Linked DNA regions of Homo sapiens: regions 2, 3, 4, 5 and 6 are each linked to region 1. Evidence: fine-mapped expression QTL. A gene starts in region 1. Each other region holds a variant in brackets. All regions are shown on one strand. Distances are from middle to middle. Region 1 holds the start of ZNF736 (zinc finger protein 736). Region 2 overlaps LOC105375318 (a long non-coding RNA gene). Region 3 has its middle 68 kb from the start of LINC02848. Region 4 overlaps ZNF680 (zinc finger protein 680). Region 5 has its middle 48 kb from the start of ZNF736. Region 6 overlaps LOC105375315 (a long non-coding RNA gene).

What was found. PIP is the estimated chance that this variant, and not a neighbour inherited with it, causes the effect.
Region 2: its variant is fine-mapped to the expression of ZNF736 in esophagus muscle (GTEx, PIP 0.99).
Region 3: its variant is fine-mapped to the expression of ZNF736 in subcutaneous fat (GTEx, PIP 0.97).
Region 4: its variant is fine-mapped to the expression of ZNF736 in lung (TOPMed, PIP above 0.99).
Region 5: its variant is fine-mapped to the expression of ZNF736 in whole blood (INTERVAL, PIP 0.98).
Region 6: its variant is fine-mapped to the expression of ZNF736 in CD4 T cells (BLUEPRINT, PIP 0.95).

Annotation. Positions count from the first base shown.
Region 1 is chr7:64,311,124-64,316,523 of GRCh38, reverse strand. It overlaps ZNF736 (zinc finger protein 736), which reads right to left and starts at 2,563. Exons shown (of 4, transcript NM_001170905.3): 1 at 2,371-2,563. The coding sequence starts at 2,373. RefSeq lists an enhancer at 2,331-2,510.
Region 2 is chr7:63,930,891-63,936,290 of GRCh38, reverse strand. The region is part of intron 1 of LOC105375318 (a long non-coding RNA gene); the gene reads right to left. It also overlaps the pseudogene SLC25A1P3 and the pseudogene VN1R34P. Among named protein-coding and RNA genes, the nearest start is that of LINC02848, 34 kb to the right of the region's middle. The variant G/A (reference allele first, on the strand shown) is at 2,637.
Region 3 is chr7:63,829,334-63,834,733 of GRCh38, reverse strand. No RefSeq gene overlaps it. Among named protein-coding and RNA genes, the nearest start is that of LINC02848, 68 kb to the left of the region's middle. The variant C/A (reference allele first, on the strand shown) is at 2,707.
Region 4 is chr7:64,537,212-64,542,611 of GRCh38, reverse strand. The region is part of intron 3 of ZNF680 (zinc finger protein 680); the gene reads left to right. Among named protein-coding and RNA genes, the nearest start is that of ZNF680, 23 kb to the left of the region's middle. The variant T/A (reference allele first, on the strand shown) is at 2,486.
Region 5 is chr7:64,359,174-64,364,573 of GRCh38, reverse strand. No RefSeq gene overlaps it. Among named protein-coding and RNA genes, the nearest start is that of ZNF736, 48 kb to the right of the region's middle. The variant C/G (reference allele first, on the strand shown) is at 2,375.
Region 6 is chr7:63,736,016-63,741,415 of GRCh38, reverse strand. LOC105375315 (a long non-coding RNA gene) reads right to left here. Exons shown (of 4, transcript XR_927571.2): 4 at 1,790-1,870. Among named protein-coding and RNA genes, the nearest start is that of MIR4283-2, 120 kb to the right of the region's middle. The variant A/G (reference allele first, on the strand shown) is at 2,474.

The DNA of each region.
Region 1 (5,400 bases):
TTGCCCCCTGTGTGGCAGATGTGTATTTTGCTTTGCAAATTTATACACTCCCTCACTAGAGTGGATCTTTCCTGTACTTTGGGACAGTTATTCTCCTTCACAAGCCTGAGAGAAACCAGAGGGCAAGATGCATTTGTGCCTTTTCCCCTCAATATCAGCACCTGATTGGTTGACCACCAATGTGTCTGCAAGAAATGAAAACTAGGATTGAGGGGAAAAAAATCTTAATGTTAAAGCAGTTAGCTTTTTAGAGGAAGGGTGAATCAGGAAACTGCTCTCAGCACGAGGGCATCCAGCTGCTCCCCTGAGAGGCTCCACCCAATGCCTCAGGCTCTTCTCTGAAAGGAGATGACCCAGGGGCTAATGTTTGCTAGACACTCCAAGAGATATGGTCCTTGTGGGTATCTTGGATCATCCCCAGAAAGCTGTAATACTTGGACCAGGAAAACACAGGAGAGTGACTGAGGACACATCACCCTGCAAAGGATCCAAAGACATTCTGGGAAGGCGCGCGTGCCTAGAGAAGATGAGAGGAGATGCGCAGTGTCAGGTGACTACTCTTTGCTTTTCTGTCCTGTGAAATATGCACAAACAGACTAATATATTAAAAAGAGCCACCCACGGCTCTGTTAAACAAAAATAAACAAAATGCCACATCCGTTTTAAAATTAAATAAAGAACTGATAGTTCATAATGTGATTTGGAGAGGGATAGTTGGCATTTGGGAATGTGGGAAAGAAATTGGAAATTTAGAATTTTATACAGTCCCTAGAACAGTTAGGCTGGGAGAACAGTTTTAGATTTGAGACCCTGCTTGCCAAACATTTGAAAAATGCAGAGAAAACCAACGACCCTGTGGAGCATTAAAATAATTAAATAGCTAGCAATTAGGCTGAAGTGGCCATGGTGCCCTGGGATTCTGCCTAAGGAAACCTAACTACGTCGAAGGAATTTCTGGTAAATTATTAACTTTGAGAAACAACAACAACAACAACAAAACAACTTAGGCTTAACCAACCACAAGCTGCCAATAAAAAGCTCTAATTACATAACCAGGACATTTCCACCGGAGGGCTGCAAATGCAATACGTAACTGTAACCAATCAAATATTGAATCTGGTTTGCTTCCTCATACCTCTTAAAAAAAAAAAACAACCTTTTGTTCCAAGACCCTCCTTTGAGCCCCCAAACAACAAATCATAGCTGGGTGTTCTCTGATTGATAAATTACTGTTTGTGCAAGTAAACTATTTGTATTAATCGCTTCTGGCATTACTATAAATACCTCAGACTGGGTAATTTATAAGAGGATTAATTGGCTCATGGTTCCACAGGCTGCATAGAAAGCATAACACCAGCGTCTGCTTCTGGGGAGGCCCCACCCAGAAAGCTTAAAATCATGGATGAAGGTGAAGCAAGAGCTTGAAAAAGAGGCAAGGTGGGGTGCTGTACACTTCTAAATGATGAACTTCAGGGAACTCACTCACTATTGAGAGGACAATACCAAGAGGAATGGTGCTAAACTATTCGTGAGAAATCCGGGCCCACAATCCTTCCACCAGGCCCCACCTCCAACATGGGGGATTACATTTAAATAGGAGATTTGGGCTGGAAAACACATCCAAATTATATCCTAAAGTTGCCTCAATTTAGGCTAGGGTGGTGGGTCATGCACGTAATCCCGGCACTTTAGGAGGCCCGAGGCGGGCGGATCACCTGAGACCTGAGCTCGGGGAGTTCGAGACCAGCCTGAGCAACATGGCAAAAGCCTGTCTCTACAAAAACAAACAAAACAAAATAGGCGTGGTGGCGCACCCCTCTAGTCCTAGCTACTTGGGGGGCTGGGGTGAGAGGATCATCTGAGCCCAGTAGGTGGAGGCTGCAGTGAACCGAAATGCACTTTAGCCTGGGCAACAGAGTGAGACACTGTCTCAAAAATAAATAAATTTAAAAAAGGGCCATGATTTTATTTTTAAAAGGAGAAAGGAGGGACTAGGGACCCCACGGCCCACTGCTTCTTCCACGGAGGAACTCCAGACCCTAAATGAGAATTCCCGTCTTATGACACTCCCAACACCCCCACACAATCTGGAGGAGGGAGACTCGAGGTTGCGGCACAGAGCTGCCCAGGAAGGGATCTGAGCTGGGGAGAAATTCGAGTTTAGGGACAAAACAAGACGTAGCGTTTTGGCTGCTGGCTCAGCCCCTAATCTGCGATGGAGGGAAATGAGGATTGAGCTGTGCCCGCGGGGACTCGGGGATGCAGACTCCAGAGCAGACCGCGAGAAGGCCCAGATACCACCGCAGCCGGTTCCGGCCGGATTCAAACAGCCTCTTCCCCATTCTCGGGACACCCACTCCACGCACTCACCATTTCCCAGCCTCCAGATGTTCCGCCGTCCTCCCTATGGATCTCCCAGTACCTGCAGGTCACAGGATAACAGAAGCTATAGTAGAGTCACCGAGGAACTCCAGGAACGGAGGAGATGGAACAGTGGAGACGCGAACTAGGATCAGAGCCCGGAAGCTAGGAGACAAAGGCCCCGCCATATTGAAGAGGCCGCCTCTTCCTCTGTAGCTGCGCACTTGATTGGACAGTTTCACGCTGGCGCCACTGATTGGCTAGGGCTCCAGGCCCCACCCGTTTCAATCCTAAGTGACAGAAGATGTAATCAGACACTGGGCTGAATGAGGCAAGGGTGACAGGTTTTTGCCTGCAGCGTTTTCAGGCGAGTCCTCCCTGTGCTGGGGGCCTGGCCCTGCCTGAGAGACATTTGTATTTAACCTTGCATATAAGATTATATCACTTTCTGATTATATTTTCGTGTGTGTGTATATATTACATTCTGAATTATAGTTATGTGTATGCTGCAGGCCCTGTCTCAGCATCCTGTCTTTCCCTTTAGCTGCAGGAGATCAAAGTCCTCCAGGAGATGCAGCTGCTTCAGCTGGCTGTAGACAATTATCACCTTCAGTCTGTGAAGCAATTTTGGGTCTGCTTCCAATTAATGGAGTGTCTCAGTGAGACTGAGAGGTGAGGGCCTAGCAGATTGGTTAGAGGTGCCACTCGCCCAGGCCTCCCAAAACACCCTGTCTCTTTCCCACCAAAGCTGAGCCTGCCTGAGGACCTAAACAAGCATGGAGAACCAAGATGGGACCCTAGTCAGGGATAGTGCTGGGCTGTGGGGTAAAGTCAGCTAGGTCAGGGCCTCCAGGTGTGGGGAGGAGCCGGCCTCTTCTGTAGAGCCCTGGGCAAGTCACTGCCCTCTTTGGGCCTCTGTTTTCTTATCTAAAAAATGTAGGGATGATGAGCCTCACAGGGTAATGAGGAGCTTCAAAGGAGAAAAATTTGAGAGTGCTTGTGCCTGGCTCTTCCTGAGAGAGATGATGATGAGAACAATGGTGACGGCTACATATAACTGAGTCCTCACGAGGCCCAGTGAGGTAGGTGTGGTTCCCATCACACTTTCAAGTTGAGAAACAGTCTCAGGGAGGCCTGGCTGCATGCCCAAGGTTCCACACACAGTGAGTGTTGCAGCAGGGAGTGAATCTAGAATCAGAGTTTACTGGAGGTGGCAGGAGCACTGGACCAGCTTGACTCACACCAGTTATCCAGGGTACCAGGTCAATGTAACTGGGCATAACTGGGTGAAGGGAGCATAATATCACTGACCTTGTCCTTGACCCTGGCAGAGGAAGACACCCAAGTTGGCCACCCTAGAGAAGAAACCACAGAAAGCCCAGATGAGGCTAAAGCAGCAAAAAGGCAGGTACCTGTGATGGGGAAGAGCTCCAGGGATTCAGAGGGAAGAGCTCCTCCCTCCCAGCTGGAGGCCTCCACATCAAAAGAGCAAGGGGCCTTTCTCCCTCAGCCCTTCCCTCCTGTGGCAACAGTCCCTGAAATGCCTCTATAAGAGAAATCAGAGTAAAGGCCTGGAAGAGCTGGGCTGAGTGGATTTGGGAAACGGTGGAGCTAGGGACCACATAACATTGTGACTTGTTAAAATCTCACCACAGAGTTAATAAGGGAGTGCTTCATGTTTTTGGAGGCCAGCTAGGAAGAGGGGAGAGAGTTGGAGAGAGGCAGCTGCGTGTCTTTGGCTTTTTCAAGTAAAAGATGTGGATAGGAGAGTCCAGGAGATGGGGGCTTATGAGATTTCAGGGACAGGCCTTGAATGGACACCCAAAAGTGGATACTCATCCCCATCACCACCTGATAGCACAGGGTGTTGCTGACTTTCACCTCCCCACTCTCTCCCAATGTTGCCCCAGCTGCTCACCTTCCTTTTCTTTCTGGGTGTTACATTTCCCTAGAAGTCAGCCAATGGTCATCAGAAAGGCCCCTTGGACCCTGACTAGGTCCCCTCCCCACACTCTTCATACTGCATTACTGCCAGGGCCACCAGGGGCAGGGGATGTGCACAAAGCAGGACTTGGGTCTGCAGCAGGTTCTGGGGTTCAAAGGGGACAATGGGAGCTGAGGCTCAGGGACCTCCCACCCCAACTCTCTTTGATGACAGACATAAAAACTGAGGGCTCCCATTTAAAAAAGTGCTCAGCCAGGCCAGGCACGGTGGCTCACACCTGTAATCCCAGTACTTTGGGAGGCTGAGGATGGTGGATCACCAGGTCAGGAGTTCAAGACCAGCCTGGCCAAGATGGCAAAACCCCGTCTCTACTAAAAATACAAGAATTAGCTGGGCGTGGTTGTGGGCACCTGTAATCCCAGCTACTAAGGAGGCTGAGGCAGAGAATTGCTTGAACCTGGGAGGCGGAGTTTGCAGTGAGCCAAGATCATGCCACTGCACTCCAGCCTGGGTGACAGAGGAGGCTCCATCTCAAAAAAAACCAAAAAACAAAAAACAAAAGTGCTCAGCCACATACGAGCTGCCTGCCCTTGGAGAGGCCTAAGTTTACTATCCTTCCATTGGCACCATCTGAGGGAGAGTCTGAGTCCAGCTCAGGCAAAACCTCACTGGGCTTTGCAAGCAGACAGCTCTGCAGCTTCATCACTCAGGGAACAGGGACTGGTGGCTGGTGTGGAATCTTCAACATTCATAGGGAAGAGGGGCCTGATACCTCAGCTCACAGAGGCAGCCGTGACGCTCTCATGAGAGGAAGTTTGCCAAGTGCTGAGATCTAAGGGTGTAGTCCTGATTCTCTTCTCCCAAGCCTCAGGATTCTGGTTCCAGCCCTGCCCATCCCAGGCTCACTCCCATCCATATAATCCTTTCTGGCAGGGTTTCCCATCACCAGATAACTGGAAAATGTGTCCAGGATGGAGGCAACACCCTGTGCTGTCGGGTGGTGATGGGGATGACTACTCACTTTTGGGTGTCCCTTCGAGGCCTGTCCCCTGAAATCTCATAATCCCCTGTCTCCTGGACCCTCCTATCCGCAT
Region 2 (5,400 bases), 380 kb after region 1:
AAGAAAAAAGAGCACTTGTATATTTACAGGTTTATTTTGTTAAACTTCTTATTATTCATGGTATTATTTTAATCTTTCAGTTTTACTAATGTATTTTTTTAAATCTTTGTGGATACAAGTTATTACCTGGACAGATTTTCTTAGCCCAATATAGCTTTTTTTGAACCCACCTTCTCTGTGCTGTTATTGGCAAATAAATTAAATTTCTTTATGTTATATAAATTGCACTGAAGATGCAATTACAAACAATATTACAAAGTTGCTTTTGACAATCAGTAATATGAGAAAAAATATTTCTTATATTGCCTTAAATATTTGTTACATTTACTAGTCCTCTTTGTCTTTTTGGGGCATTGAAATTATCTGGGATTACTTGCATTCAGCCTGAAAACTTATTTTTATTCTTTCTCAAATGATCTGTCTGCTATCAAGAAATTGCCTCAGTTTTTATTTATCTGAAATGTTTTTATTTTTATTTATTTTTAATTGATAGTTTTTCTGAGGATAAAATTTTTAGTGGACAGTTTTTTGTCTTTGAGCATTGAAATATATATATTCTTAGAAGCTGAAAAGCTTTTACGAAGAAAAAAATTCGAGACCTGAGAATGTTCAGCGATTTGAGAAATTCAGAAAGGAAGGAAATGCTTTCTGAGGAGTGAGCCACAAGTACTATATGAGTATAGATAATGTGCACCCTACATAGGTGTGATTGTGGATGTGTGGATGTTTGAGATATGTATTTTATGATATTTATTTGTTATAAAATAAAGCTCAGGCTACATTTTAAAGAATTTATATAAGATAGTTGGGGTTAATCGAGATAAATGGGTAAAATTAAAATGATAATGTTGGTAATAATTTTGACCATGCAATAAATAGTGATGATAGGATATCTATTGCTTTTTTCAGATATATAAAGTATGATTCCTCTTCATGATTAAGATGACCTTGTTCCACTTATGATACTATTAAAAATTGCCCTTTTTTTCCAAGCCGGTATTAGACTCACAGCCAACACCTTCCTCCTTTTCTTCTGTATCTGCACACTCCCTCTGGACTGCAGGTCTAAGCCCACTGACCTCATCACCTGTCACCTGGCCCTTGTCCACTTAGTGATGCTCCTCACTGTGAGCTTCTTGGCATCTCCAGACCTGTTTGAGTCACAGTATTTTCAGAATGACTTCAAGCGTAAGGTATTCTACATGCATAGAGGGATGAGGGCTCTCCATCTGTACCACCTGCTTCCGGAGTATGTTCCAGGCTGTCACCATTAGCTCCAGCACCTCCTGGTCGGCAAGAATTAAACAGAAATTCACACGTTGCATCTTTCACTTCTTTGGGTTCTCAATTTGTTTCTCAGTAATAACCTGCCCTCCTCCACTGTGGCCTCTTCTAATGTGACCAATAGCAACGTGCTAAGTATCAGTAAATACTGTTCACTTTCTTACATAAGGGACAACATCAGGAGCCTGTTTTTCATGCTGCCACTACTTACAGATGTCTTCTTTGTAGCAATCATGTTTCTCTCAAGGGCATACATGGTAATTATTTTGTCCAGACATCAGAGACAACCCCAGTACCTTCCCAGCACCAACCTCTCTGCAAAAGCCTCCCCAGAGAAAAGGGCCACACAGACCATTCTGTTGCTGGTGAGTTGCTCTGTGGTCATGTACTGGGTGGACCTTATCATCTCATCATCCTCAACCCTGTTATGGGCTTATGACTCAGTCATCGTGGGTGTCCAGATGCTTGTGGGCAATTTCTGTTAGCCCTTTTATGCTAATTAGTTCTGATAAAAGAATAATCAAAATTTTGCATAATGTGTGATATAAATATCATAGATGATTAATAAATTATGAAAACAATTATCTGAAAAACAGATTTTGACATCAAATTTTTCAAGAAGCAGGCGATTTGATATATTATTTTATTACACTTTTATTTCATCTTAATACTTTTGAAAACTATGCTGCCAAGAACTTGGTGGTTTCTTTAGTTCAAAGTCCAACATCATAGTTCCCTTTGTCCACAAGTTTCTTACATTTAATTTTGATTCCCTAAATTTTATATAAGACAACTTTTCTATCTTCTTAAAGTGTACACTTAAGATGCTCCTGTTGGTAGATGAAATTTCTCTTTGTGTGTGTGTGTGTGTGTGTGTGTGTGTGTGTGTGTGTGTGTGTGTTTACTTTCGAAGGTTATTTAGTTTACCCTTATTTATTTAAAAATATGCTAGTTGTGTATTCAATTATAGGTTGAACAATAATTTTTCAGCACTCTTAGTATCTCCTTCTCAGTTTTCTGGCTCTGCCATGGGCTGTGGAGATTTTATTCTCACCTGTGTAGATTCTCTCTCTCTCTCTCATGGATTTTAATTTTCTTCATTCTCTTTGGTGTTATGCAGTTTGACTTATCGTGTTGGATATCTTTCTTTATTGCTCTCTCACTTTTTTTTTTTTTTCGGAGATGGAGTCTTTCTCTGTCACCCAGGCTGGAGTGTAACGGTGCAATCTTGGCTCACCGCAACCTCAGTCTCCCAGGTTCAAGCGATTCTCCTGCCTCAGCCTCCAGAGTAGCTGGGATCACAGGTGTTGGCCACCATGCCTGGCTAATTTTTCTGTATTTTTAGTAGAGAC[G/A]AGGTTTCACCATGTTGCCCGGGCTGGTCTCAAACTCCTAACTTCAAATGTTGCGCCCACCTTGGCCTCCCAAAGTGCTGAGATTACAGGCATGAGCCACCGCACCCGGCCTCTTTATTGCTCTCTTTCAGGCACAGTGTCTCTTTTAGGCACATGTCTGGTTTTTAATTTCAGAAATTTGTAAATAATTATTTATTAGTATGACATTATTTGTATGGATTCAAGTGAAATAATTGTGCTTTACTCTTTCTATTCTTCACATATGTATAATTGCATACATATTGCTATTATTTTGTTTCTCTTCCTTTTATTTGGTTATATTCGTTCTGCTCAAAATTCCAATTCATTAACCCAGTTTACTAATTCTCTCATCATCAACTTAGTCTAATTTTATAATTAACTCACATATTGTATATTAAATTTCTTTATGTTTAAATTATTCCATTTCTATTTGCTCTTTTCCAAATTTGTTTGTTCAGTTTATAGTTTCCTGCTCTTTCAAAAATTATTTTGATATCATCTTTTCCCCATTTGTTTTTACTTAAACATTTAAAATAATTAAATTTAATATTTTATATTAATATTTATAAATATAAATATATTTATAATACTTTTTACATTTAAAATATTATAAATATATTTCCAGTATGCAAAGTTTATGTGATATCAAATTTCTTCCAAACCGGCCAGGCACAGTGGCTCACGCCTGTATTCCCAGCACTTTGGGAGGCCGAGGTGGGAGGATCACTTGAGGCCAGGAGTTCCAGACCAGCCTGGGCAACATAGTGAAACCCGTCTCTATTAAAAATACAAAAATTAGGCGGGCTTGGTGGGGCGTGCCTGTAATCCCAGCTACTCGGGAGGCTGGGGAAGGAGAATCACTTGAACCCGGGAGGTGGAGGGTGCAGTGAGCCAAGATCGTGCCACTGCACTCCAGCCTGGGCAACAGAGCAAGACTCTGTCTCAAAAAAAAAAAAACAACAAAAAAACTTCTAACCCTTTTTCCTCGTACCTTATCTTCTTCTGTGCTTCATACTTTATTTTTTATTTTTTGCAATAGGATCCGGTTTACTCTGCCTTGGCAGGGTGATCCTGAGAGTGGTGGGTGTCACCCTCTCCTGGGCGTAGGGAGGGCCAGCGGGCCAGTTAAGCCAATAGTGGGAGAAGCGCTGGTGGGGGGCGGGATTTGGGGGTCAGGGGTGTAATCCCGAGAATGCGGTGAAACCAGGCCGAGGCCTGGAGGCAGCTGTGGTAGCCCAGGGCAGGGTGGAAGGCAGTGGACTGGGACTGGGCCAGGGCGACAGGCTCGAGGACCCAGGCCACACGGGCACCCTGGGAGGTGGGGCGCAGTGTCACATGACGCAGAACATGAATCACAGGCCCAGGGCTCACAGTAAGCACATGGACAAGGGGGCACAGACTCACAGGCCAGATGGACATCCAGCCAACACCGGGCCAGACAAGTGGACACAGGGCCGCTGTCACATACAGACCACGGGGCGACATGGCCCTAGGGGACACACAGACTTGACGTCATAATGCACAAGGCAGGTCACAGAGCTCGAGGGACCTGGGCAGGGGCCGCTTGGCATTTCTGCACTGGAATCCTGTGAGACAAGGGTGGTGGCCGCTCTGGAGGTGCCTGGGGCGGTCCCCTCAAGGCCCTTCCGGGCTTACTCCGTCTTCCACACTGTTGAGCAGCTTTCCTACCTCATGGCAGAGGATAAACACTGTGGTCACATCCAGGCAGACCCGGCCCAGGTGGGGGACAATGCCGTTGTAGAAGGCCTTGAGCCCTTCCTTTCTCAGGATTTGCAGCCGCAGTCCCGTGTGTTCTGCATTTGTGCTTTTCAGGCCCCGCATCCGGGTCTCGATCCCGTGCAGTGGAGCGTTTCCCAAGACACTGGCTGCGCCTGCAATGGCTCCGAAGGCCCCAGCGACCAGCGGGTTCATGGGCTTGCTGGGGTTGTCCCCTCGGTACCAGCTATGCAGGGGGGTCAGGAGAAGAAGCGGATGGCCTGGTTCCAGCCCTGCTTCAGCGCGGGGGCCGTGAGGCCCCGCTGGGTCCCCTTGTTCCCGCACAATCTCCCTAACCCCGGTGGGAGACTCCTCTGCACTGGACGTCTGGGGAGGTCTGGCGGTGGATGAACTTCACCTTGATGGCGTCCATGGGAAATATGACCACCACGGCCCCGGCCACGCGGGCGCCCCAGCCGCACAGCAGCCTGCGTTGTTGTAAGGCCGTCCCTGGGCATCCCTCGTCTGGCTGCTGAGGAACAGGAACATTCAGAACCCAAAGCCGCCTTGGGGATAGAGCGGCAGAGCAGGGAGCCGAGGCCGCGGTGCTGGCCCGGGATGCCGTGGCCGCGACAGTGTACTCGCGGAATCCATGCGCCGTGTCCCGCGGGTGCGAGCGCTCGTCGGGCTGCAGGTGCGTCCTCCCGCGCTCCGTGGGCAACGGACGCCGATTTCGATGTCGCGGGCCTGGCCGCCTGCCAGGGTCGCCTTCCCCGGAGCCTCCGCTGGGCCTTCTTGGACGCGGTCGGGCCACGGCGGGCGGGAGGCGGGCGCCCAGCATGGTCTGAGGTCCCAGCATCCTGAACTCCACACTGGGACCTTAATTTGGTTTTAACACAAATAAATATTCTCACTAAAGATAAAAAGGGATGTCTTGGCTTCTAATTTTTGTTAAAAGCAATAGCATATGTTGTATAGGATAGTGCATTGGGGTAAATGGGTTTTTTATTCTTTTTATTTTTTTCAT
Region 3 (5,400 bases), 480 kb after region 1:
ATCGTGGGTAGAACCAGTTTTTTAAACAGTGCATAAGGGGCAAATAATGTTTATAGTCATTCCGGAATCAAAAATCTGGGAAAATTACCAAGTAAAAGCACTGCAAATCTCTAGTCCCTTATCATAAAATAAGGAGCCTTGTGAGTGCTTGTATGTGACACCTGCTAGGCCAATTTATTAGCAATATTAATAAAGTCAATTATTTGATGTTATGCAGTTAGCTTTCTGTTTCGATTGCTTATTGCTGCAAACAAAAAACTTCAGAGGCTTAAAGCAAAGACCACCACTTGTTACTTTTTAATTATGTGGGTTATCCAGGCAGTTCTGTGGGTCTGGCTTTTGGGTGACTGCAGCCACCTCGTTGGTCATTGGGCCTGAAGTCACCTGGAAGCCCCATTAGGATAACCTCTCCTATCCATGGGGCCTCTCCCTCATGGTCCCTCTCCCAGGATAGCTGGACTTCAACATGGCAGCTCAGAGCACCCCCACAATTGCAAAAATGGTAGATGCCTGTGCTCAGGTATCACAGAGCATGACTTCCTTCTACTGTTTAAAGCAAGTCAGAGGCCAGCATCAATTCACTATGGGAGGAGACTCCACAAGGGTGTGACTATGGTTCACCGGGCCCATTGCTAGAGGCCAGCTGCCCCACACTCCTTCTGGACGTTTTGGGTAAATCACTTCATCTTTTTGAGCTTGGGCAATTGCAATAGTCTCCTATTTGCTCTCCCTATTCTACTTTTGCCCCTCTTCAGTCCATTCTCTTCTGCAGCCAGAAAGATCCCATAAAACACAGGTCAGGATCAGGTGTGGTGTCTCACACCTGTAATCCTAGCACTTTGGAAGGCTAAGACAGGAGGATTGCTTGAGGCCAGAAATTCGAGACCAGTCTGGACAACATAGTGAGACCCCATCTCTACGAATCTAAAAATGAAAATAAAAGTATCTGGGTGTCATGGTGCACACCTGTATTCCCAGCTACTTGGGAGGCTGAAGTGGGATGATCACTAGAGGCCAGAAGTTGGAGGCTGCAATGAGCTATAATTGCACCACTGCACTCCATCCTGGGTGACAGAGCAAGACCCCAACTCTAAAAAAAAAAACTAAAAATAAAAAAAAAAACAAAAAATAAAAACCTCTGATCAAATTGGCTCTCAGGTCAAAACCCACTGCTGCTTTCCACTGAGAATAAAGCTGAAGTTAGTTCCTGCAACTTCCCACATGGTCCTCCCACTCTTCCTTCTACCCCACGTCATCCTCCAATCTCATCTTCTACTCCTTTCCCATATTTCACTCTATGCAGCCACACATTCTTGTTCCTCATTAAGGACTCCAGGCTCTCTCCTGCCTCCGTCTTTTCATTTGCTGTTCCCTCTGCTTGGAATGCTGTTCCCTGCATATTCCTGACTCACTCCCTCATCTCCTTCCAGTCTTTACCCAAATGTCACTTCAGTGAGGACTTCCCTGACCACCATCTTTTAATAACTGTCTCCCACTTAGCTGTCATTCCATGTCCCCATTCCTTGCTCCACTTTTCCCCAGAAAGCACTTATTGCCACCTAATATGCTGAGTAATTTACTGACCCTTTTTTTTTTCCTTCTGAGATGGAGTCTCACTCTGTCACACAGGCTGGAGTGCAATGGCATGATCTCAGCTCACTGCAACCTCCGCCACCTGGGTTCAAGCAAGTCTCCTGCCTCAGCCTCCTGAGTAGCTGAGATTACAGGTGTACACCATCACGCCTGGCTAATATTTGTATTATTAGTAGAGACAGGGTTTCACCATGTTGGTCAGGCTGGTCTCAAACTCCTGACCTTGTAATCCGCCTGCCTCAGCCTCCCAGAGTGCTGGGATTACAGGCGTGAGCCACTGCACGTGGCCTTACTGACTTGTTTAGCATAGTTTCTTCCATGCTCACATGACTGTAAGCTCTTTGACATGATGGTTTTGTATGAACAACTTTATTGAGATATAATTTACATACCATAATATTTACCCTCTCACAGTACACAATTCCACAGCTTTGAGTATCATAACAGAGTCATGTTATCATCACCACTATCTAATTTGATGGTTTGATTGATTGACTGGACTTTGGAGATCCTTTATTGCTCCCACACAGGGAAATCGAAACCTAGAGAAATCGAGTGATTGCCCAAGGTCACCTGGCTGACTAATGACAAAAAAACTGAGCTGGAATCCAGGACTTTAGTTCTCAGTCCAGAGCTCTGCCAACCACAGCATTTCAGATTTCTACTTCGATGATGCCCTGGTTTTTTATTTAGTCCTATAAGTTAAAGACATACTTGGTTAGCCAATTTTTTTCTTTTTTTTTTTTGAGACGAAGTTTCACTCTTGTTCCCCAGGCTGGAGTGCAATGGTGTGATCTTGGCTCACCACAACCTCCGCCTCCCAGGTTCAAGTGATTCTCCTGCCTCAGCCTCCCGAATAGCTGGGATTACAGGCATGTGCCATCATGCCCAGCTAATTTTTTTTTTTTTTGAGACGGGGTCTTGCTCTGTCGCCCAGGCTGGAGTGCAGTAGTGTGATCTCGGCTCACTGCAAGCTCCGCCTCCTGGGTTCATGCCATTCTCCTGCCTCAGCCTCCCGAGTTGCTGGGACTACAGGCGCCCGCCACCATGCCCGGCTAATTTTTTGTATTTTTAGTAGAGGCGGGGTTTCACTGTGTTAGCCAGGATGGTCTC[C/A]ATCTCCCGACCTCGTTATTCGCCCGCCTTGGCCTCCCAAAGTGCTGGGATTACAGGCGTGAGCCACCGCGCCCGGCCGCTAATTTTGTATTTTTAGTAGAGACGGGGTTTCTCCATGTTGGTCAGGCTGGTCTCGAACCACCGACCTCAGGTGATCTGCCCACCTCGGCCTCCCAAAGTGCTGGGAAAGACTGAGCCACCGTGCCAAGCTGCCAAAGATTTTTTATAACCCCCATAAAGCATTCTCCCTTCTCTAGGAAACCACTTTTTTTTCCTCTAACAGTTTTGTGACCCAACTTAATTTTAGAAAAACAAAAATAAAAACACTGTGCTTTGCTGTAGGAACCTATTAAAAAAATGACATTGCCTTGAAAATGGACAGTGGGTAAAGCCTGACATAAATCCTGTAAAGGGAAAAAAGGATGAAGAAGCTGAGGTCCCCAAATCACCCAGCTTCATGACTGATGGTGCTAACATTTGTTGACTGACATGGAAGATTCTAGTAGTTGTTTGTCTGTAGACTCAGAAGCTTCTTTGAGCTGGAAGGAACCTTGGTAATTGTCTACGAGGAAACAGAGCCCCAGAAAAAGCAAGCCTTGTGACCAGAGTCATGGGGCAGAGCTAGGGCAGAAACACGTGCCTTCCGATCCTTAGCCTGATGATGTTCTAGGACAGAATGTTTTCAAGGATCCAAGGAAAAGGCTTTTCATTTAAATTGAGTGAGTGCAAATTGAGAAGTTATTAGGTTGGTGCAAAAGTAATTGCGGTTTTTGCCATTGCTTTTAATGCACCAACCTAATACGCTGAAATTACTTTTGCACCAACCTAATATGTTGAAAGTCAGAGTATATTTGCAGTGATAAACACTGTTGAACCCTTATTATGATCCAGGAACTTCTCTATGCCTTGAAATGGATTGAGCATCTTTCTCTGGGCTGTTGGTCAGCTTTCACCAGGTTATGTTGCAGCAACAACCCTGAAATCTCATTGGCTTACAGCAACAGAGTTTTCCTTCTTGTGCATTATATGTTGTTTGTGATGGCTTGGGATCTGCCCATATGGTTTCTTCAATGCAGGATCCAGGGCCATCATGGAACCTGGCAGTATTTGAAGGGCTGTCAAACTTTTCTTTTTTTACTTTTTTTTTTTTTTGAGATGGAGTTTCTCTCTTGTTGCCCAGGCTGGAGTGCAATGGCACGATCCCAGCTCACTGCAACCTCTGCCTTCCAGGTTCAAGAGATTCTCCTGCCTCAGCCTCCTGAGTTGCTGGGATTACAGGCACCTGCCACGACACCCAGCTAATTTTTGTATTTTTAGTAGAGACCGAGTTTCACTACGTTGGCCAGGCTGGTTTTGAACCTCTGTCTCCTGCATTCAAGCAATTCTCCTGCCTCAGCCTCCGGAGTAGCTGGGATTACAGGCATCATAACCATGCCCGGCTAATTTTTTTTTGTATTTTTATGGTTTTATTTTTATTATTATTATTTTTTTGAGACAGAGTTTTGCTCTTGTAGCCCAGGCTGGAGTGCAATGGTGCAATCTTGGCTCACTGCAACCTCCACCTCCCGGGTTCAAGCAATTCTCCTGCCTCAGCCTCCCAAGTAGCTGGAATTACAGGCATGTGCCACCATGCCCAGCTAATTTTGTATTTTGAGTAGAGGCGGAGTTTCTCCATGTTGGTCAGGATGGTCTTGAACTCCCGACCTCAGGGGATCTGCCCGCCTCAGTCTCCCAAAGTGCTGGGATTCGTGGCAAGAGCAACTGCACCTGGGCTCTTTTGTATTTTTAATAGAGATAGGGTTTCACCATGTTGGCCAGACTAGCTGAGTATCTTCTCATGTGCTTATTAGCCATTTGTATGTCTTCTTCGGAGAAATCTCTATTCAAGTCCTCTACCTATGTTTTAAATGGATTGTCTTTTATTGTGAAGTTATAAGAATTCTTTATACATACTGGATACAAGTCCCTTACCAGATATATAATTTGCAATTATATTTTTCTATTATGTGGCCACCTTTTCATTTTTTTTTCTTTCTCTGAGACAAGGTCTTGCTCTGTCACCCAGACCAGAGTGCAATGGTGCAATCAGGGCTCACTGTAGCCTTGACCTCCATGTGGTTGGATAACATACTGTGCATTTTAATCTTTTAAAAATTATGGAGACTTCTTTATGTGTTAATGTATGGCCTCTCCTGAGAATGTGTACTTGAGAAGAATGTGTGTTCTGGTATTGTTGGGTAGAGAGTTTTAGGTGGTTTGCAAAGCTCTTCCAGTTCCTATTTCTTTGCTTCTTTGATCTTCTGCCTGGTTGTTCTATTCATTATTGAAAGTGGGTAATCACATCTCCCACTTTTATTGGTAAATCTATTTTTGTCCTATATTTTCTCAGTTTTTTGCCTCAGGTATTTCAGAACTCTGTTATTAGGTGCCTAAGTGTTTATAATTGCCATATCTTCTTGATGAATTGATCCTTTTATCATCGTAAAATGTCCTTATTTGCCCTAGTAACTACTTTTGTCTTAAAGTCTTTTTTTTTTTTTTTTTTTTTTGAGATGGAGTCTTGCTCTGTTACCTGGGCTGGAGTGCAGTGGCACGATCTCAGCTCACTGCAACATCTGACTCCCAGGTTCAAGCGATTCTCCTGCCTCAGCCTCCTGAGTAGCTGGGATTACAGGTGCATGCCACCACACCTGG
Region 4 (5,400 bases), 230 kb before region 1:
ACTGTAAATAAGATTGTTTTCTTAATAATCAGTTTGCTTTAAGTGTATGGAACCATAACTTAAACTTGTATGTTAATTTTATATTTTGCTAATTTACTGAATGTATTTATTAATTTAAACAGGTTTTAGTGTACTGTTTATAATTTTTTATATATAAGAGCATATGATCGATAAGCAGCAAGTTTTTACTCATTTGTCTTCAATTTCAGTGAGTTTAAAAACTTTTTTTGACTAATTTTTCTGCCACATACTTGCAGTTCTATGTTAAAATAAAGTATTTACAGTGGGTACAATATAGTTTTGCATTGGTGTCTGAATTTAAAGGAGCAAACACCTCTTTAAGTTTTTATAAACTGGTTTAGAAGGTAAAGATTTTTTTTGTTGGGTTCTCAGGGTGATGGGATGTCCTCTGGGTTTGTAGTGGAGAGGGGCGTAGCTTGGTCACAAGGCTGCTGGGTCTGCACTAGGGCTCACCTTTAGTTGGCTTAACAGGGGCTTGGGTAATTGTAATTTTCATTATATTTTGGAACAGACTAAATATTTTTCTGGATGTTGCTCTGTAGGGCAGACAGTAGGGCAGGTTTTTGTAATTGGGTCTATATATGGTGGGCCTTATATCAGAATGTGGATGAGTATGGCTTTCACTGAGTATCAAAGAGAATTTTTTCAGGTCACTGTGTGGGTTCCTTTATAGGCAGAACTGGCCGTGAACTGTGGCTCAGGGAGCTGGAACTGAGTCATCGAACTGCTTCAGAAACCACAGTAAAGGACAAGGTCTGCAGGCCTGCCTGCGTGGCTATAAATGGCTGTCTTCCTCCAGGCCTCTGGAAGGGCACGGTCTCTCCCAGACTGTGGCTGGGAGGAGTTTGGGATGATTAGAGAGTAAGTTCAGAATTCTCAGTGGGACCAAATTTGGTGGGCCATTTCCTGGTCTGCAGCCTAGAACAGGGGTCCTGTATTTTTCCACCTGAATGAGGGCCTGCCTTCTGAAAAGAACACTCCTTAATCTTAGACTGTAGCAGTTTCACAACACCCTCTCTGGATCTCAAAGCTCTCTTAAAGGCACTTATTTTTGAGATGGGTTTTGGCTTCATAACCCAGGTTGGTCTTGAAATCCTGGCCTGAAGCAGTTCCCCAACCTGAATGTACCATGTAGCTGTCATTACAGGTGTGAGCCATGGCTCACATAAATGCATTTTTGACAGGGATGGCTGATAAATTTTCTTGCTGTGGGATGATAAGCAAATAAGGAACCTTTTATTTTTCCATCTTACTGATGTCACTCTCCCTATACATTTTTACTTTCTATTTTCTATTTCAAATTTTTCTGTACTTTAGGTTCAGACATTTAGGACAATATGCTAGAATTTACATGATATGGTTGATGTTACTTATAAATTTAAGTTTGCTTCAGGCAAACAGGAATTACAGGATTTTCACCCACTTAAGCATATATCTAAATAACAACATAACTAATTTCTAAATATTTGTTTTATATATAAGAAGTGCTAACCATATTCTGCAAAATATATAATTTTTAAATTTAGCAATGCAAGACTATTGTTTTGCTTCTAAAGTTGGATTACAGTAGTTTTATTTTGTGTAAGAATAGCATATATTTAAAACATAAATACTAATTTCTTGTAAATTTTTGTTTATTATAAATTTATTGTTAGAATCTTTTATTTATAATTATACTGTTTTTTTCCTGAAATTTTATTGCAACACAGCGCATGCCAATGATTTGAAATACCTGCTTTCCATGAGTACACATAGTCAAATATTGTAATTATCTAGACAAATTTTTTAATGGCACATAAATATTGCAAAGCAGATTTTGTGAGTAAACTTCTTTAGTTATTGTTTTGCAGTTCCATATTAGTGTTTTATTTAGTGTACTTTTTAAACATCAGTTTATTGTGATTTTTTGTTTTACTTATATATTTAGACATTTTGCAATTCTGTTTGTAAACTTTAAGTCAACATGGGGTTTAATTAAAAGATAAATCAGCCGGGCTCAGTGGCTCATGCCTGTAATCCCAGCACTTTGGGAGCCCGAGGCAGGTGGATCAGAAGGTCAGGAGTTCGAGACCAGCCTGGCCAATATGGTGAAGCCCCATCTCTACTAAAAATACAAAAATTAGCCTGGTGTGGTAGCGGGTGCCTGTAGTCCCAGCTACTTGGGAGGCTGAGGCAGGGGAATCTCTTGAACCTGGGAGGCAGAGGTTACAGTGAGCTGAGATTGCACTACTGTACTCCAGCCTGGGCGACAGAGCGAGCCTCCATCTCAAAAAAAAAAAAAAAAAAAGGATAAATCAGCCATATGTCTATCACAATCAGTTTGTATATGTGTGTGCTTTTATCTACAAATATGACCTCCATTTTGGTTATGGCTTATTTTGTAGGTATTCTTTCTTAGCTGATTTTCAATGGTTGTCCGATCATATCTAAATGAGTAGTCATGGAAATCGCCTTCTTTTCACCA[T/A]GTGTTTAATGATGAATATATATTTCTTTTGCATGAGAGAAACACGTTTGTGATTTGAAGATAATTTTTGAAAAGATTTATAAATCTTTATTTTTTCAGTTTTTCTTTTAAAAAATTAATTGTGAAAATATAACATAAAATTTACCATCTTAAATTCATTGAAGTGTACATTTCAGGGCCAGGCATGGTGGTGGCTTACATCTGTAATCCAGGGATTTTGAGAGGCCAAGACAGGAGTATCACTTGAGCCCAAAATTTGGAGACCAGCTTGGGCAACATATAAAGACCCAGTCTACAAAAAAAACTATTTTTAAAGACAGGCATGGTGGTGTGCACTTGTGGTTTCAGCTACTTGGGAGATTGATGGGGGAGGATTTACTTCAGCCTGGTTAAGGCTATAGTAAGCCATAATTGTGCCACTGCACTCCAGCTTGGGTGACAGAGTGAGATCCTGTCTGAATAAAAGTTGTACATTTCGAGCATGTTAAGTGTATTCACACTGTTAGGCAAAATACTTCTAAAAGTTTTACATCTTGTAAAACTAAAACTCAGTACACATTAAGTAACAACTGCCCATTTTACCCTCTCTTCAGCCCTTGACAGACACGCTTCCACTTTCTGTTTTTATGAGTGTGACTACTTAAGATATCTCATAAGTGGAATCATACAGTACCCATCATTTTGTTACTGGCTCATTTTAGGTGACATAATTCTCAACATTTATAATAAAATGGGACAAGATTTTCTTTTCTTTTTTTTTTTTTTTTTTTTTTTTGAGACGAAGTTTTGCTCTTGTTGCCCAGGCTGGAGCGCAGTGGTGCCATCTTGGCTCACCTCTACCTCCCAGGTTCAAACAATTCTCCTCCCTCAGCTTCCCAAGATTTTTTTTTAAGGCTGAATAATATTCCATTGTATACATATGTTACTTTTTTTATGTATTTATAAATCAACATCTGGATTGCTTCAGCATTTTGGCTTTTTTTTTTTTTTTTTTTTGAGATGGAGTCTTGCTCTGCCTCCCAGGCTAGAGTGCAATGGCACAATCTTGGCTCACTGCAGTCTCCGCCTCCCAGGTTCAAGTGATTCTCCTGCCTCAGCCTCCTGAGTAGCTGGGATTACAGGCACCCACCACCACACCTGGCTAAATTTTGTATATTTAGTAGAGACAAGGTTTCACCATGTTGGCAAAGCTGGTCTCAAACTGCTGACCTCAGGTGATCCACCCGCCTCCGCCTTCCAAAGTGCTGGGATTACAGGTGTGAGCCACTGTGCCTGGCCGCGTTTTGGCTTTTGTGATGCTGGTACAAGAAACATAAATGTTCAAATATGTCTTCCAGGTCCTGCGTTGCATAGTTTGGATGTAGATCCATAAGTGGGATTGCTGTATTTAATAATTCCATTTTTAATTATTTGAGGAACATTTATAACATTTGTAAATAATGGTTGCATCCTTGTTTTGCACCAACAATTAACGTGTTTTTGTTGCAAATTTTCATTGCATCATCAACTGATTTGATGTTTTCTAGAAAACTTATAGTGGCTATTATAATGGGTGTAAGAGGATTCTGTTTTTCATTGTGATTTTCATGCATTTGTCTACAAATTAGTATTTTGTGTATCCTTTCAAATGCTTTTTTGCATTTGTATCAATTTGATGAAAATTTAGTTCAATTATTTGTCCACTTCTAAGTTGTTATTCAACTTTATAATTCAGTTTTAATAGTTGTTTATATATTCTGAATATTAACTCCTATCACATGTGATTTGCAAATATTTTCACCCATTTCCTAGGAGGCATCATTACTCTTTTGAATGTTTTCTTTGATATGCAGAAATTTTGAAGTACTGTGTAGTTCAGTTATTCTGTTCTTCTCTTTGTTGCTCATGCATTTAATGTTGTATCTAAGAAAATGGTGCCAATACCAATGTCATGTTTTTTTCCTATATTTTTTCTAAGAGATTGTTATTTTTTAAATTTCTAAATATTTTATTTCAAATATTCTTTGTATATAGTTCAAGGAAAGGATTCAGCTTTATCAGTGTAGATAACCTGATTTCAACGTTATTTTTTTGAAAAGATTATCTTTTCTCTATCATGTGTTAATGGTGACTTAGTGAAAGATCATTTGATCATACACAAAAGCGTTCTTTTCTGGGCTCTCTATTCTGTTTTTGTTTGTTTTTTTGTTTTTTTTTGGAGATGGAGTCTTGCTGTGTCACCCAGTCTGGAGTGCAGTGGTGCTATCTCAGCTCACTGCAAGCTCTGCCTCCCGGGTTCACGTCATTCTCCTGCCTCAGCCTCCCAAATAGCTGGGACTACAGGCGCCCGCCACCACGCCCGGCTAATTGTTTTTTGTATTTTTAGTAGAGACAGGGTTTCACTGTGTTAGCCAGGATGGTCTCGATCTCCTGACCTTGTGATCTGCCCGCCTTGGCCTCCCAAAATGCTGGGATTACAGGCGTGAGCCAGCGCACCTGGCCGTCTATTCTGTTTTTTATCTCTTTATATGTCATTGTGTCAGTACCACATTGTTTTTGCTGTTGTAGCTTTTAATATGTTTTTCAATCAGGAAGTATAATGCTTTTTTTTCATGGTTGTTTAGCTAGTTATGATCATAATCAAATTAAAAAATTTTAAACATTTCTGTAAAAAAAACTGTGCTATTGGGATTTTTATAGAGATCATATTGAATTTTTTTACCACTTTAGGTTATATTGACATCTTAACAAAATTAAATTTTTTGACCCTTGAGCAAAACTATGTCAAAGAGTATGTTTTATTTTATTTTAAATTAAATTAAATTTAAAGACAGGGTCTCACCTTGTTGCCCAGGCTACTTTCAAACTCCTAGGCACAGGTAATCCTTCTGCCTTGGCCTCCTGAAGTTCTAAGTTTACACATTTGAGCCACTACA
Region 5 (5,400 bases), 48 kb before region 1:
ACAGAAAACTGAAGTAATCGTTCCGACTTTTGCTTGTAACATTATTGATCCTTGTATTGTTTACCAGCATCAAAGAAACTTATGTTGAGCTATTTACAGCCTTTAATATTTGACTAAGGTGTACTCCTGTGAACAAAATTTGGAGCATGTTTGTCTCTCTCTGCCTGGCTTCTCCAGAATTTGAAAAATAGTGTGAGTATTCTTAACCTATGGCAATATGGCTGTTTGCATTGGGTATGCTTCCCTTTATGGAGTCAAGCTCAACTTGCAGAGCCAATAAAAGCCCCTTGGAAAAACTGGCCTCATAACTCATCTACACAGTCCTTGTGCAGGGTTCCGTTCCTGATCTATGGTAAGTAAAGAATGACACTTTCTGATAGGCCCAGGAGCCCCAAGTTTATCTTGGGACCACAAGAGGAGAGGATCACCCAACTCATAAGTATTTGATAGTACGAACCCATGGCTGGGCTTGACTTCAGAAAGTCCTATGTAAAATTTCTTGTGGAACAGAGTTCCATCGAAGCCAGTGTAAAAGACCTATGTAAAAATAATTATTCTTGCTGCACTTTATGCAAATAATCAGGCCAAGTATAAGACTAATGTTTATTTCACAAATAACTCAGTCCTGTCATGATTCGTTTTTAACAGAAAAGAGGACTGGATAAAGATTATGTTTCAAAACTTATTATACAATTGTCATTAAATTCTAAACTCATTAGTTTTGAGTTTTTGCCTACATTTTAGACCAATCCTGCTTATTCCGGTGAACCACCTGGCGATCTTCAACTGCAGCTCAGAAGAAACAAAAAGGGATGGGTAATGTAAAAATCTGGATTAATATTCTACTTCTGGGCAATTATTCTGCAAATCCTGCAGAGGAATGGGAATAAATAGGGTGCCCATCGCAATCTCAGCAAGCATAACTATAGCCACTAGTTATCTGGGTGTGTCAAAAGACATTCTTTTCTCTCCCTTGTGGAAAGAGGACTTAATTCCACAGCTTCATCTTAGCATTCAGCTCATGGTAAGGAGTCTATGCAATCCCCTGAGACATATTTTTGTCCCAACCTCAATTCCAAGCTTCAAGTTGAAGCCTTAGGAAAGAATACTGGATCTGAGAAATCTACAGGCAGATAATGGAGGTTAAAAGGCACAGTGCAGGTGAGCATGACTAATTCCAGCCGATTAAACCAAGCCTCCCATTTCATAGATAAATATCATGCTAGGATCTGTGGAATAAGTGAGGTCTAGTGAACTCCAGAACCACTGACAGAAGGGGAAATAGGATAAGAGCAAATATTTCCACCCCCCTAGGCCTCCCTGTTAACCAGGGTGGAAGCTGCTTGGACACCAATGGGTGGCACCCTGTCACAATCACTGGGACTTGGGGATACAAGGATGGAAGGGGAAAAGAGAACATTCTTTCTTCTGTCAACATACCTGGGTATTTGCTAGGATGAAAAAGGAACCAGGGACACCTGCTCCTCTCTTTCTAGATGAGTAACCATTCATTCATCTTCAGTCTATATCCTTTTCGAATGCATCCTGAACCCTTGGGACTCCTTTGAAAACATGCTTTTTTCCTTTTATCCCCTCTGTCTTCTCTTTACAGATAGGTAATCATGTCTTCATACTATGGGACGGTCCCCTCAGATGCATCCTCCAAGCTTGGAAGAATTAATTTTCCAAACCTTAGACTGGGTGGCTTAGGATTGGACTCAAGACAAAAGAACCCAGAAGCCTGACATGCTGGCAAAAGGGTAAAAGGTGTTTTTTTTTTTCTTTCTTTCTTTCCCCCGTTGGGCTTTTGGTCTCCCTTTCCCTATGCAAACTGGTAAAAGACCTTGGGATTTCTTAGCTTTCCTTGCCACCTTCCCCTTGTTTCGTTTTAATACATGTTTTTAAATAACCCAGTTTGATTCTTCCCACCTTCAGGCTACCAAACTTCAAAGAGTCACACAACCAGAGCCTTGGACAATGGCCCCTTTCACAGGGAACTCTTAGATAGGCCTCTTAGGGAGATCTGACTGCCATTTTTCCAAAACAGTGTCCCCTGTCATCAGGAAGCAGTTAAAAATGGTTTTTTGTCCTTATCTTTATTTTGATTCTAACAGCAGTTAGATGTGCTTCTTTAGAGGGGGAAATAACAGAGTTAAACAGCCAAGGGTCCTGGGTGAAACCCCATCTTCAAGCCTAAAACAGCCTGAAGACTAAAAAATCAGACTGCTGGTCCCAGATGAAGCCTGCCTTTTTCTAACTGATTATGAATAATTTTCTAACTGAATAATGTCCACCTGCACACTGGGGGGAAGGGAGTGGAGCCATGGAAAGTTTACCCCTTGTGCAGGGAGGAGGAGCCTGGCCTCTTCAGTTT[C/G]TGTGTGATGGTCTGGTGTTCACCAATCTAGGAGGTGGGGGCCTTTAAACAGGACTCCGACTCACTTTTTTTTTTTTCTGGTTTTTAACCCAATCAACTCTACTCCTCACCCTTCAGAGTGTCTCTGAGCCTAATCTTTCCTAGTCATGTGACAAGAACCCAATTTTGCTGAAGGAAAGTTCTGCAACATGAAGATTTGGAACCCTCATTTAAGATAAGCTTAGTATACACATGTGGGTCTCTTTCTGGCTTCTATGTTTCAACATTTTTCTGTCTTTATGCCAACACCACAGTATTTTGATTACTGTAAATTTGCAATATATTTTTAAACAAAAAAAGAATTATGCCTCTGAGTTTATCATTTATTTCCAGGTTGTTTGGCTACTTGTGGTTTTTTTTGAGTGTTTATAGAAATTATAGGGCAATATTTTGGTGGCTTAGTCCTGTGATCTCAGAACTTTGGGAAGCCAAGGCAGGTGGATTGCTTGAGCCCAGGAGTTTGAGAGCAGCTTGGGCAATATGGTGAAACTCTGTCTCTACAAAAAATACAAAAACTTGCTGAGCCTGGTGGCATACACCTGCAGTCCCAGTTACTTGTAAGGCTGAGGTGAGAAAATCAATTGAGCTTGAGAGGTCAAGGCTACACTGAGCCATGATTATGACACTGCACTGCAGCCTGGGTGACACAGCTAAATATTGACTCAAACATTTTAGAATATTTTAGTACTTCTGCAAAAAGTACCATTGGTTTTTTTGAAAGAGATCTCATTGATTTGTAGATCATTTCGAATACCATTAACATCTAAAGAAACTTGCATGTTCTAACTCTTGAAAAATAGTATGCTAAAGAATTTGTCGAGTTTTCATATATATGCAGGTATGCTAGTTTTCTTTTGGCTTTTAACTTCCAGTTATATTTCATTGTAGTCAGAAATAATATTTTTATGATTACCATTTGTTTACACTAAAACTTGCATTCCAGCTTAGAAGTTTGCCTATCTTAGAATATGTGCCATATGCAATTAGAAATATTACGTATTATGCTATTGTCAAGTGAAATGTTTTGTAGATTATTCCCAGGTCTTATTTTTCTTTTTAACCTTTTATTTCTCTCTGCATTTGCCTTTATCTTTATTTTCTTTTTTTACTTTCTTTCTATTAATTTTATTTCTTTTTCTTTTTTCTCATTACATTCTCTTAATTTCAAATTTTCTAGAATTTTTGTCATGTTTTAATTTCTTGTTTATTTCCATTCATATCCCCTATTATTTTTCTCCATGTTTCTTTTTCCATTTCTCATTTCTTAAAATTTTATTTTATTGCAAATTATTGCATTTGTTTACTTCTGTTTTTATTGTAATTAGTATCTTCATCTTCATTTTATTTTCACTGATCTTAATTACGTTTGTTTTTCTTTATTTCAGTTTGTCCTGTTTTTCAATTACTTTAAATTTATTTTTAAATTTTATTTTCTTTCTCTTGATTTCATTTGTTTCACTTTATTTTTCTGTATTTTGCTTTGTAAAACAGAAGGGATGAGCTATTTTACATTGGCCTAGCCATAGTGGTCAAGACTCATTTGCTGAGGCTCTCTGGCAGCCACTCTACCCCAGGAGTCTCCAACCCAGGGTATAGTCAGGGCCTCCTAGGAAGATTGCTAAGATCCCTCGGCAGATCTTTCATTGTTACAGGCCCATCTGGCACTCAGTGTCATGGGCCATTTCTGCTGCTTTCTGAAGCCCCCTGGAAGTCTTAGTGTTGCCAGGCCAAGACCCTGACTGCCTCTTTGTGTCCCAATGGATCCCCCACACATAATCCAGGGCACTGACTTCTTTCCCAGGAGAGGGCCACACCCACTCCACTGCACCAGGGCATGTCTGGACAATATGTGTGTCTTTGTTATAAAAGAATTTTTTTGTTTTTTGAGATGGAGTCTTGCTCTGTCACCCAGGGGGGAGTGCAGTGACGTGATTTCAGCTCACTGCAACCTGCAACCTGCACCTCCCAGGTTCGAGTGATTTTCCTGCCTCAGCCTCCCAAGCAGCTGGTATTACAGGTGTGTGCCACCACACCCAGCTAACTTTTTTTTTTTTTTGTATTTTTAGTCGAGACAGGGTTTCACCATGTTGGCCAGGCTGGTTTCGAACTCCTGACCTCAGGTGATCCACCCGCCTCAGCCTCCAAAAGTGCTGGGATTACACATGTGAGCCACTGTGCCCAGTTGAGAAAAAAAAAAAATTTTAACTTGACATATAACTGAATTATGAAAATGTCAGCTTTATGGGTAGATACACATGCAAATATGTGCAAAAATGCTAATCATGTGAGAAGATGAACATTTCTACATTGTATTTAATGATTTCATAGGGTTGCTATTTTACCCTTTCCTGTCTTTATATGTTCAATGGGAAAATCCTCAGTGAAGACTCCTCAGTATGACAGACAAAATGTTGTGCAATCTAATCACTGATAGATGCAGTGACGTAACTTCTGGTTTTCATTCGGAGCTCTCACAGCTAGGATTAAAAACTCTTAGTTGCAAACTCACATGATGAGGAATTATAGTATGCTGTCCTCTTCTGCACATTTGTCTGCCATCATAATTTTTTCAACTTGCCAAGGGAAAAAGTGGGAAATTGTTTCCCTCAGACCTACTCATCTCCCTTCCATAGGTTTTCAGGTTGTGTATTGTCCAGATTGCTTAGAAGCTCATGATCACAGAGGTCATGATTGTCAAGAGAAAGCTTTGTTGCAGGATTAAGTGAAGGTGTTTACCACTCAGGGCCTACGGTTCCTCCAGAGGCAGGATGAACTTAAAAATCATTCCTGAATCCAGAAAGTAATGACAGAAGTCAGGGACTACCCACAGGAGAAAGAAAAATGCTCCCTTTTGCTTTCCAAGTGGTCACTGCTTATTCTGGCATTAATCATGCTTCTGACCATGATGTGTTTCTTACTCATCTTTCTCGGTATTCCACTGATTGTGCATCTAAGGAAAAGAGGCCTGGATGAGAGTGGTAAGAGAA
Region 6 (5,400 bases), 580 kb after region 1:
AGGGAAGCATTGTGTATGTTTAATAAGAAGACGCTGGCCATGTTTGTGCAGCAGCAGTATGTCACAATACGATATACCTTGGAGAGCAGTTAACTGACGAGGAAGTTGATAAAAATGATCAGAGAAGCAAAATACTGATAGCGATAGTCAAGTAAACCACGAAGAATTTCCATAACTGATGTCAGCAAGGTGGGAATATTGTACAGTGTGTGTTGAAGTTCTTATACAACAGTTTATTTGCCTTTTGTTTTTTTGTAAGGAACATATATACTAAAAGTTCTCCTTGCTGTCAAAAGAATATGTGTGAGTAAGTTATTTGAACTTTTCTGTTTTTCTACTTTTCCTGCCATCATCCCACAGCCTTTAGACATTTTTTATTTTTTTAGAAAATTGAACAAGTGCTTGTTGTCGTGGCTCATACCTCTAGGATGGGAGGCAGGGGTAGAAGGGTCACCTGAGGCCAGGAGTTTGACAACAGCCTGGCCAATAAAGTGAGACCCCATGTCTACAAAACAATTTAAAAATTAGCCAGGTGTCATCATGTATACCTACAGTCCCAGCTACTCAGGAGGCTGAGGCAGGAGGATCCTTAGCCCAGGAGTTCAAAGCTGCAGCAAGCTGTGATGGCACCACTGTACTCCAGCCTGGGTGACAGGGTGAGACCCCATCTCCTAAAAGAAAAAAGAAAGAAAGAAAATAGATTAAGTAGCAAGTTGTATGTGGCTTACTTGGAATATTTCTAAACTAGAAGTTCTCAATCTTTCGGGGTCTAGCATCCTTTTACATTTTTTAACTTTATTGAAGATCTCTTAAGACTTTTTCTTTACATAAATATATTAAAATTAGAAAATGACTAAATTTTAAAAATATTATCACATATTAATAAAACCATTACATGTTGATATAATACAAGTTTTTAAAAATATTTAATATACATTACATATTAATAATAAAATCATTACATGTTAATACTTTTTTTTTTTTTTTTTGGAGATGGAGTCTCGCTCTTTCACCCAGGCTGGAGTGAAGTGGCGCGATCTCGGCTCACTGCAACCTCCGCCCCCAGGCTCAAGTGATTCTCCTGCCTCTGCCTCTCAAGTAGCTGGGCAGGTGCCCACCACCATGCCCAGCTAATTTTTGTGTTTTTTTTAGTAGAAACGGGGTTTCACCATGTTGGCCAGGCTGGTCTCGAACTCTTGACCTCAGGTGATCCATCCCCTTGGGTCTCCCAAAGTGCCGGGATTACAGGCATGAGCCACTGCACCCACCCCAATTAATACATTTTTAAAAACACTATGATTAGTCAGGCAACAACACTGGGCAGGGGTCTCCTCATTCCCAGAGACAAACCCCACTGCACAGCTCCGGGGTTGCAAGGGCTGCAGAGACAAAAGGCTCTAACTTGAGATTTCATTATTTTATTTGTATTTCTATTTGTACTGTGAGACAGGTCGTGCTCTGTCACCTAGACTGGAGTGCAGTTGTGTACTTAGAGCTCACTGCAGCCACAATCTCCTGGGCTCAAGCCATCTTTCTGTCTCAGCTCCCCAGTAGCTGGTACTACAGTTGAGTGCCACCATATCTGGCTATTTTTTAAATTTTTTGTAGAGTGAGGGGTCTTGCTATATTGCCCAAGCTGGCCTCAAACTCCTGACCTCAAGAGATCTGCCCACCTCAGCCTCCTGAGTAGCTGGGACTACAAGTATACATCACCATGCCTACCTACATTTATTTTATTAAATTTTGAAAAACATTTTTGTAGAGAGGAGGTCTTGCTATGTTGCCCACACTGGTCTTGAACTCCTGTCCTTAAAAGATACTCCCATCTCTGCTTCCCAAACAGCTGGGACTACAGGCATGAGCCACTGCACTGAAAATGAAGAGATTTCTTTAATCTAGCATCCCATACTTGGTAGGATTGAGAAAGGCAGTAGTGTTTTTTTAAAATTACTTAATAATTCAGTGAGAATCAAACTCAACCTTGACCCCTGCCTTCTCTCACACCCCACATCCAGTCTGTCAGGAAATCCTGTTGACTGTCTTCACCACGTACTGGACTCCCACCCAGCAACTCCCTGGCCTCCTCCCCTACTTCTCTCCTCTGACCATCTCTCACCACCACGACCCTGGTCAAGACCACTAATATCTCCTGCCTGGATGTTGCCACAGCTTGGCCCCCATGCTTCTACCCAAATCTTCCCACAGCCTTTCTAAAATGAGCAGCCAGAGAATGCTTTCAAATCAGGAGACAGATCATGTCGCCTCTCTGCTCAGAACCCTCCCACAGTTCCCATCTCAGTCAGAATAAAAGCCAAAGCCCAAGCCCCAGCAATAACCTCCCAGGGCTTATGTGATATGTACTGATCCCTTCCCCTAATTCCTTCTATCCTTCTGCTCCACTGGCCTCCTTCTAGAGCCTCAGACACACCTCAGACACTTTATCCTGTTTTTCTGCCTATAATCCTCTTCCCTC[A/G]GCACCTTGGCCAACTCCTTCCCCTCCTTCAAGTCTTTGCTCAATTTTCACTTAGGAGGACACCCCTGACCATTCTATTTAACATTGCCATCTGTCCCCATGCCCACCATGCTCATGTTTTTTCTTTTTCTGTTTCTTCTCTCTTTCGGTCTCTCTTTCACAAGATCTCACTCTGTCACCAAGGCTGGAGTGCAGCGGTGCAATCACAGCTCACTGTAACCTCAAATTCACAGGCTCAAGCAGTCCTCCCACTTCAGCCTCCCTAGTAGCTGGGACTACAGGTATATGCTATCATCCCTGGCTCATTTTTTTTTATTATTTATTTTATTTTACTTATTTTTTATATATATTTTATTTTATTATTATACTTTAAGTTTTAGGGTACATGTGCACAATGTGCAGGTTAGTTACATATGCATACATGTGCCATGCTGGTGTGCTACACCCATTAACTCGTCATTTAGCATTAGGTATATCTCCTAATGCTATCCCTCCACCCTCCCCCCACCCCACAACAGTCCCCAGAGTGTGATGTTCCCCTTCCTGTGTTCATGTGTTCTCATTGTTCAATTCCCACCTATGAGTGAGAATATGCAGTGTTTGGTTTTTTGTCCTTGCAATAGTTTACTGAGAATAATGATTTCCAATTTCATCCACGTCCCTACAAAGGACATGAACTCATCATTTTTTATGGCTGCATAGTATTCCATGGTGTATATGTGCCACATTTTCTTAATCCAATCTATCATTGTTGGACATTTGGGTTGGTTCCAAGTCTTTGCTATTGTGAATAGTGCCGCAATAAACATACGTGTGCATGTGTCTTTATAGCAGCATGATTTATAGTCCTTTGGGTATATACCCAGTAATGGGACAGCTGGGTCAAATGGTATTTCTAGTTCTAGATCCCTGAGGAATCGCCACACTGACTTCCACAATGGTTGAACTAGTTTACAGTCCCACCAACAGTGTAAAAGCGTTCCTATTTCTCCACATCCTCTCCAGCACCTGTTGTTTCCTGACTTTTTAATGATTGCCATTCTAACTGGTATGAGATGGTATCTCATTGTGGTTTTGATTTGCATTTCTCTGATGGCCAGTGATGGTGAGCATTTTTTCATGTGTTTTTTTGGCTGCATAAATGTCTTCTTTTGAGAAGTGTCTGTTCATGTCCTTTGCCCACTTTTTGATGGGGTTATTTTTTTCTTGTAAATTTGAGTTCATTGTAGATTCTGGATATTAGCCCTTTGTCAGATGAGTAGGTTACGAAAATTTTCTCCCATTTTCTAGGTTGCCTGTTCACTCTGATGGTAGTTTCTTTTGCTGTGCAGAAGCTCTTTAGTTTAATTAGATCCCATTTGTCAATTTTGGCTTTTGTTGCCATTGCTTTTGGTGTTTTAGACATGAAGTCCTTGCCCATGCCTATGTCCTGAATGGTAATGCCTAGGTTTTCTTCTAGGGTTTTTATGGTTTTAGGTCTAATGTTTAAGTCTTTAATCCATCTTGAATTAATTTGTGTATAAGGTGTAAGGAAGGGATCCAGTTTCAGCTTTCTACATATGGCTAGCCAGTTTTCCCAGCACCATTTATTAAATAGGGAATCCTTTCGCCATTGCTTGTTTTTCTCAGGTTTGTCAAAGATCAGATAGTTGTAGATATGTGGTGTTATTTCTGAGGGCTGTGTTCTGTTCCACTGATCTATCTCTCTGTTTTGGTATCAGTACCATGCTATTTTGGTTACTGTAGCCTTGTAGTATAGTTTGAAGTCAGGTAGTGTGATGCCTCCAGCTTTGTTCTTTTGGCTTAGGATTGACTTGGCAATGCGGGCTCTTTTTTGGTTCCATATGAACTTTAAAGTAGTTTTTTCCAATTCTGTGAAGAAAGTCACTGGTAGCTTGATGGGGATGGCATTGAATCTATAAATTACCTTGGGCAGTATGGCCATTTTCACGATATTGATTCTTTCTACCCATGAACATGGAACGTTCTTCCATTTCTTTGTATCCTCTTTTATTTCCTTGAGCAGTGGTTTGTAGTTCTCCTTGAAAGGTCCTTCACATTCCTTGTAAGTTGGATTCCTAGGTATTTTATTCTCTTTGAAGCAATTGTGAAAGGGAGTTCACTCATGATTTGGCTCTGTTTCTCTGTTATTGGTGTATAAGAATGCTTGTGATTTTTGTACATTGATTTTTTTTCCTGAGACTTTGCTGAAGTTGCTTATCAGCTTAAGGAGATTTTGGGCTGAGACAATGGGGTTTTCTAGATATACAATCATGTCGTCTGTAAACAGGGACAATTTGACTTCCTCTTTTCCTACTTGAATACCCTTTATTTCCTTCTCCTGCCTAATTGCCCTGGCCAGAACTTCCAACACTATGTTGAATAGGAGTGGTGAGAGAGGGCATCCCTGTCTTGTGCCAGTTTTCAAAGGGAATGCTTCCAGTTTTTGCCCATTCAGTATGGTATTGGCTGTGGGTTTGTCATAGATAGCTCTTACTATTTTGAGATACGTCCCATCAATACCTAATTTATTGAGAGTTTTTAGCATAAAGCGTTGTTGAATTTTGTCAAAGGCCTTTTCTGCATCTATTGAGATAATCATGTGGTTTTTGTCTTTGGTTCTGTTTATATGCTGGATTACATTTATTGATTTGTGTATAATGAACCAGCCTTGCATCCCAGGGATGAAGCCCACTTGATCATGGTGGATAAGCTTTTTGATATGTTGCTGGATTCAGTCTGCCAGTATTTTCTTGAGGATTTTTGCATCAATGTTCATCAAGGATATTGGTCTAAAATTCTCTTTTTTGGTTGTGTCTCTGCCCAGCTTTGGTATCAGGATGATGCTGGCCTCAGAAAATGAGTTAGGGAGGATTCCCTCTTTCTATTGATTGGAATAGTTTCAGAAGGAATGGTACCAGTTCCTC